2 linked regions of the Homo sapiens genome follow. The protein of the gene in region 1 purifies or fractionates together with the protein of each later gene. This does not show direct contact. Each region holds a gene or a part of one and is shown in the gene's direction. Other genes may lie near its edges.

The links.
Region 2: the proteins of SLC35B4 (region 1) and COG5 purify together in Homo sapiens (affinity purification with mass spectrometry; one large-scale study listed by BioGRID and IntAct). This does not show direct contact.

The regions. Positions count from the first base shown.
Region 1 is NC_000007.14:134,296,431-134,299,930, reverse strand, and holds part of SLC35B4 (nucleotide sugar transporter SLC35B4), read left to right. Parts: intron 1-332; coding exon 333-408; intron 409-3,464; coding exon 3,465-3,500. UniProt on the Homo sapiens protein: Antiporter that transports nucleotide sugars across the endoplasmic reticulum (ER) membrane in exchange for another nucleotide sugar.
Region 2 is NC_000007.14:107,557,421-107,560,920, reverse strand, and holds part of COG5 (conserved oligomeric Golgi complex subunit 5), read left to right. Parts: intron 1-2,805; coding exon 2,806-2,945; intron 2,946-3,500.

The DNA.
Region 1 (3,500 bases):
CTGCATATTTAGCAAATCCTTTTGTGCAGAAAGACTATATGTTTAAATTTCTCCATTCCCTGTTGTTGAGGAAAGGATGCTGGCTCCATTGTTTGCTTTGTCTGTGATGGCCCTCAGACCCTATAAGGGCAAGAACCATAATTTGGGGGTTAATATCCTGCCATACAAGGTGAAGTGGTCAAGAAGCACTGTATACATTTAACTTAAGTCTAACTTGCTTTTCTTTGTATTGCTGTCAAACAACCTGTACGACTTTTAATCATTGTAAAGCTACTCTAATTATTCTATAATGTTTTTGCACTTACATTTATCTGACCTGTTTCTTTCCATAGCACGCCCTTCCACTTCCGGGTTTCGTCTTCTTGGCTTCTGATATTTATGACCATGCAGTTCTATTCAATAAGTCTGGTGAGTTTGGGGTTAGACAGTAGAATTACCTGACAGTTTCTGAGGCAGAGTCTCAGTTTTACTCTTGACTTGACCTCGGCCTTTTTCATAATCCTATTCAAATCATGTGTTCCTTTCGAAAATGTCTCCATTCCACTTTCCAGTCATTGCAGCAGCAAAAGCTTTTACAGGGGTTTCTCAATTATTTACAAATGAAGTAAAAGAATATCTTCGAGTTTTCCATTTTGCTTTGGAATTTGTGTGTTTGCATTTGAATGTGAAATGTTTGATGTTTTGAGAATGCAAATGAATACTTACAGCACACTGCAGAGACTGGAGCCCTGCGAAGTTGGGCAGCCGTCCAGCTCTCTCAACTGCTGTTTATCCTTCTCTGCCATGAAAGGCAGAGCTGCTCACAGATCCAGCCCAAGCTGCCATGGAGCAGAGCAAGAGGGGAGCTCAATGATGACAAGGTTTTTCTCCTAGTTACAGATGAGACAGGCAGCAGATGAATAAGCAAAATTAGTTTCAAGCGTCTAGTGTAAGTTAGCTGTTACTTTTTAAACTGGCCAGTTAATAAATTAGCTATAGATTGTCAGTTAACTTGAAAGGGATCACTTGTATGATCTGATTATCTACTAACAGAGTATAATATAGACACATTGAACACACAAGGAACAAATAAACGTTTTTAAAATCAAGGCTTTATGTTGCACACACCTCAAATGCTTAAGTGCATTTTGTAGAATGACAGTAGGTGCTCAGTAAACATTTGTTTGCTATCTGAGCATGAGTTGTGAAGTTATGACTATTCTCTGCATTTATAGTGTTGCCTCTCCCATTTGCCCCATCCCCCAAAAAATGTGAAGGTAGTGTGTAAGAGTTTGTAAGGCTCTGAATTACTCAAATAATCATTTCTTCATATTAACACAACAGTTTTTAAGATCTCTGAGAAGTCCCACGTAGCAAAGGGCTATTGAAATAAAAATGTTGTCAAATTCCATGTGATTGATTTAGTTGTTAGAATGCTGCTTCTAAAAATCACAGGGCTAGGTATTTATGATAAAATGTTTTACAGAATCTGCCTTCAACTTCTCCAGAATCATTTCCAAGTTAAAGATACATTTTCCTTCTCTTGCTTTCCTTGAGATTAAGTTTCTGAGATCCGTGAATTTTCCAAGAGAGCTAAATATCTGTCAAAATATTTTAAGTGATATTCATTGTCTCTTTCCTTCAGAGATTCAGTGTATCTCTGAAGTTATTAAAAAGTAATCACGTTTGTTAACTTCCTTTTCATTTCAATACTTGCTAAGGATATCAAAGATAATAGAATACCAGATTATTGGCATTGCCCACTGATCCAGAACTAAGTTTCAAAAATTAGTCTTTATGTGTATGCGTGTGTATGTATATATGAGACATTTTATTCGTGAAAGAAAATTAATATTTCTTACCAGATCTCAGCATCATTGTATCAGAATTTCTTAAATTATGCTGTATAATTCAAAACCTGAAAAAAATTTAGTAATACAAAAAAACTGAGCCATTGAGGATTTCTATGTCTGTATTCTCTTTCATCTTATTTCCTCCCACAAATTTACTGTGCAAGTGTCATTATATAAAGCTAACATAAGAGTGAGAGTGTGTGTGTGTATGTGTCTTTTAATAGAGACAGGACCTCCCTGTTGCCCAGAATGGTAGATTGGTCTCGAGCTCCTGGGCCCAAGGGATCCTCCTGCCTTGGCCTCCCAAAGTGCTAGGATTACAGGCGTGAGCCACTACTCCTGGCCTAAAACTAATGTAAGAATATATTTAAAGTTATTCACAGTTCCATCAACCTGGACATCTGCCAATTTTATTTTTATTGATTTTCTTCTAGACCATGTCTGTTTACAGAGATTCTTACATAGCTGTAATCCTTGTGTGGATATAATTTTATATTTGTTTTTTACTTTTTTTCTGAGTTTTTTTTATGTGGCTATAAAATCTCTATGATTTTTGTTTTTATCAAATGTACAATGCCTCCTCTAATGAAAGTGCCTTTGTTTATGTAGCCATTGCACCATCATTGGGCATTTGATTTTGATTCAGAGTTATTCTTTATTATGTATAGTACTTTAATGAGTGCAGAACCTTTTTCTTCCTTTGAATTAAACTAGGATTAATTCTGAAGGATGGGTAGGAATACTTTTATAGACCCTTAATAAGGATTATGAAATTGATTTTTTTAAAGAATGACGCCAAGTTATACTGCCACCAACCTGTGGCTGCCAGTTCCATTACCAACTTGCCAGATTAAGATATTATTTATACATTTTGAATTGGCTAGGCGCAGTGGCTCAAGCCTGTAGTCCCAGCATTTTGGGAGGCCAAGGCAGGCGAATCACTTGAAGTCAGGAGTTCAAGACCAGCCTGGCCAACATGGCGAAACCCCGTCTCTACTAAAAATACAAAAATGAGCCAGGTGTGGTGGTGTGTGCCTGTAGTCCCAGCTACTTGGGAGGCTGAGGCACAAGAACCACTTGAACCTGGGAGGCAGAGGTTGCAGTAAGCTGAGATCATGCCACTGCACTCCAGCCTGGATGACAGAGTGAGACTCTGTCTCAAAAATAAATTAATAAGTTTTGAATTGCTAATTTTGTAGCTATAAAATGGTACAGTCTTATTTACTTTGGAATTCTGTAATTACTAGTGTGATTGAACATACTTCCAAACAGTAGTTGCTAGCCGCCTTTCCTCTTGTGTTGAGTTGTTAAGGCTGTCTATATCATTTTATCATTTTCAACTTTTCTGTGCTTCACAGTCTTTCTTTGTAAAGTGAGGTACTATTCAGGCAAATGGTAAAACACTTCCTTAAAAATTAAAACTATTATTTGTTTTAAGAAACCAATTTAATGACTTTAGTGGCTGCTATAGCCTGGAGTCAAGGCAAGTAAAGTGATGCGTGATCCAATTCTATTTGCAAGGAAGACAATGTTGCTGTTCCTATTATGTTCAGTCTGTATTACCCTGTTCAAAAGATGAAAAATTCAGCTGTGAAAAAGCAATATGGCTATATCCTCTTGTAACCTCTACAGAGTTATATGAAATTCCCGTCATCGGAGTGACCCTGC
Region 2 (3,500 bases), about 27 Mb from region 1:
AATCATCTGGTCTTGTCTGTGGTTTCAGTATGCTCCTTACCTGTCTTCTGAATTATAAAACTATATTTTTAACTGCCTACTGGACATTTCTATCTTAATTTTTTTATGATATGCCATTCCATAACCTGTATGGACATTTCTATTTTGATAGTAAACAAGCAGTGCTAGTTCTATAATACACATGAAAACCTACATATGAACAAATAGTACAAGGTTTACATATGAAAAAATGAAATGAATTCACTTTTTCTGTTCTTCTCTCCTAATCTTTTCCTCTGGTAGTTTCTGTTATCTGTGTTTACTATGTTGTTAGGTAAATGTGTGCTTGTTCCCCTTGTAAATTATGAATTCCTTGGAGGCAGAAGTTTATGTTCATCTTGGTATATTCAGTGTCTAGTGGTCTAAGTTAGTGTAAAACTAAATTTCCTGTATCAGTTGCTTAATCCAGAAATTTGGGAATCCTTGTTTGTTCTACCTAATCACCCATTTTCAGCTTGTCACTAAGTCCTACATCCTGTGCAGTGTGAATATTTGTCAAATTTGTCACTTTGACATTCTTAGTGCCACTTATTCAGGTCTTAGTCGGGCCTTCATTATGTCTTAGGCTGTTAACATAGTACTTTACTGGCCTCTGTGGTTCTATTTCTTGGGTGTATTGGTTAATTGGCTTTGTGGGAAAATAGAAAAAGCCCTGATTTTTGTAGTGTTTGCTGATTACCATGGTGTAAATACTCTCACCATCGTAGATTTTAAGATATCTGTGTGAAAGGTCAACTGGCTCACAGAATTCCTGAAAATGTAACAGTCTGTGCTCAAGAGCCAATAAGAGGCAACTTCAGCACATTGCTGTGTGACTAATCCTTTTTCCATCATCCTCTATACAGCTGCCAGGATTATTGTTCTGTAACATAAAGCTGATAGTGCAATTTCTTGGGTTAAATGAGATATGGTTAAACATTTCAAATGTCTTACAAACCTCTTTTCAAACTGCGCTCCAACCTTTGGAACCACATCTGTCATTCTTTACCATTTCTGTCCAATATACATGTGCTATGATTTAGACACACTGAAATCAGTATTCCCCTTGTTTCTCAAAATATGCCATGGCATTTGCCACTGCTAAACCTTCCCTTTGCTTGGAATGGCTTTTTTCATTTGTCTGGCTGACAGGACTCTTAATTCTGAGAAGCACTTGGCAAATCAGAAGGAAATGTGGTTCTCAGACTTAAAAGCAGCCAAAGTAGCAGTTTCCTTCTTTCATTCCACTACATTTTAAGAATAATCAAGAGTATGAGCCTTTACTTTTTGTTGTTGGTTGTTACCAGAATGATACTAATGATACATCAGCTGATGTATAGATTAGTTAATTCATGGAACCTGCCATGTGTCTGGTATTGTTCAGACACTGGAGAAGAGTTAGCAAACAAAACAAAGACCTTCTTCCCCTCTTGGAGCATACATTATAGCAGATGTAGACAATTTAGGTTTTCTTAAAAGTACTCTATTTTGTTTGTTTCATAATCTCTCTCAAGGCAGCTTTACTTGTATCTACTGTATCATTAGGAGATTTGGTACATGGTTACCATGAGCTCCCTTCTGGGTATCTATTTTTAGCTTTCAATTCTCTTAATTTTTCTTTCATCCACATATTTGTGGATTTCTATATTGAGGGGTATCTTTTTAACATCTGGTATTACTTCTGTTTTCTGTCTATTAGGGGCCTATTTTAAACAGCTTTTCTTTCCATTAACATATTTCACCCATAAATCCTAAATTTCAGTAACACCTATAAATTTATATTTCCTATTGTTACTAAAATTCCAGATTCACTTTGCTATAACAGTATTTGTGTATTGATCTAGAGATATCTGAGGCCATAAATATTACATATGTGTATATATATATATAGAGTCAATTTTCCTGTTGTCTTTTCACTGACAATGATCTTGTTTTCTTGGATTAATAGTTATAGCTAGTAGTTATGGTTTTTTTTTTTTTTTTTTTTTGAGATGAAGTCTTTTTTTTTTTTTTTTGGGACAGAGTCTTGCTCTGTCGCCCAGGCTGGAGTGCAATGGCGCAATCTCAGCTCACTGCAAGCTCCGCCTCCCGGGTTCACGCCATTCTCCTGCCTCAGCCTCTCGAGTAGCTGGGACTACAGGCGCCCACCACCACGCCCGGCTAATTTTTTTTATATTTTTAGTAGAGACGGGGTTTCACTGTGCTAGCCAGGATGGTCTTGATCTCCTGACCTCGTGATCCACCTGCCTCGGCCTCCCAAAGTGCTGGGATTACAGGTGTGAGCCACCGCGCCCGGCCAGAGATAAAGTCTTGCTCTGTCACCCAGGCTGGATTGCAATGGCACGATCTCGGCTCACTGCAGCCTGTGCCTCCCGGGTTCAAGCTATTCTTCCACTTCAGCCTCCCGAGTAGCTGGGATTACAGGCACCCGCCATGATGCCCAGCTAATTTTTGTATTTTTGTAGAGATGGGGTTTGAGGTTTCACCATGTTGGCCAGGCTGGTCTTGAACACCTGACCTCAGGTGATCCACCCACCTCGGCCTCCCAAAGTGCTGGGATTACAGGCATGAGCCAGTGTGCCTGGCCAGTCGTTATGTTTTTTAATCTCTTTCTCAATGTTATACTTCCTTTAGGGTCATGATAAAAGTAAGCATTAAGCAGTATAGTGGAGTGGTTCAGAGTATGGGATCAAAATATGTTAATTATGATTATAATTGTTCTGTTGTTTAATAACTGGTTTAGTACAGGGTAATTAAGGACTTTTCCTTATTTTTTCCCCAATCCAGGGTGTTATAGTGACTTTTTAAACGAAGACTTTGATGTAAAGACTTATACTTCTCAATCTATTCATCAAGCTGTAATTGCTGAACAACTAGCAAAACTTGCCCAAGGAATCAGTCAGTTGGACAGAGAACTACACTTACAGGTAATTCTGATCTTCTGGGTCCCTATGGATTATTCAGCCTAAAGTGATAATTTAGCATTTTTGTAATCTTATTAAATACAAATGCATATTTACATGAAGAAGTACATACTTACCAGTGTGACTTATTTTTCAAAGTAAATTTTTGAAATTTTCTGTAAACCACTTTTTGTTTGTGGAAAAACTAATATACCACCTCACCAAAGCCTTTCATTCATACTTCCTGTTCACCACCTTAACTGATGTGCAACGAATATAGTGGGCAAAAAATAGGATGTGTTCGATAAAGATAATAGAAAATGGAATTTTGGAAGTAAAACAATATGAATAAGAAAAATTGGGATGTTACATTCGCAATTCATACTTTATTAGCACAAAGTGTAGCATTTGCTGAAATTACAGAAAGTTGATAAATGTTATTGTGAGTAGGATACAATATGAGATGTTAGGCGACGGGTCCTAATTTCAGCTATGCTGTTGTTAACTGACTTTAATATCACTTAAAGTCTTTGAGTCTTGCTTTTTTGTTTTTTAATCTATCAGATGGGTTGGAATAAG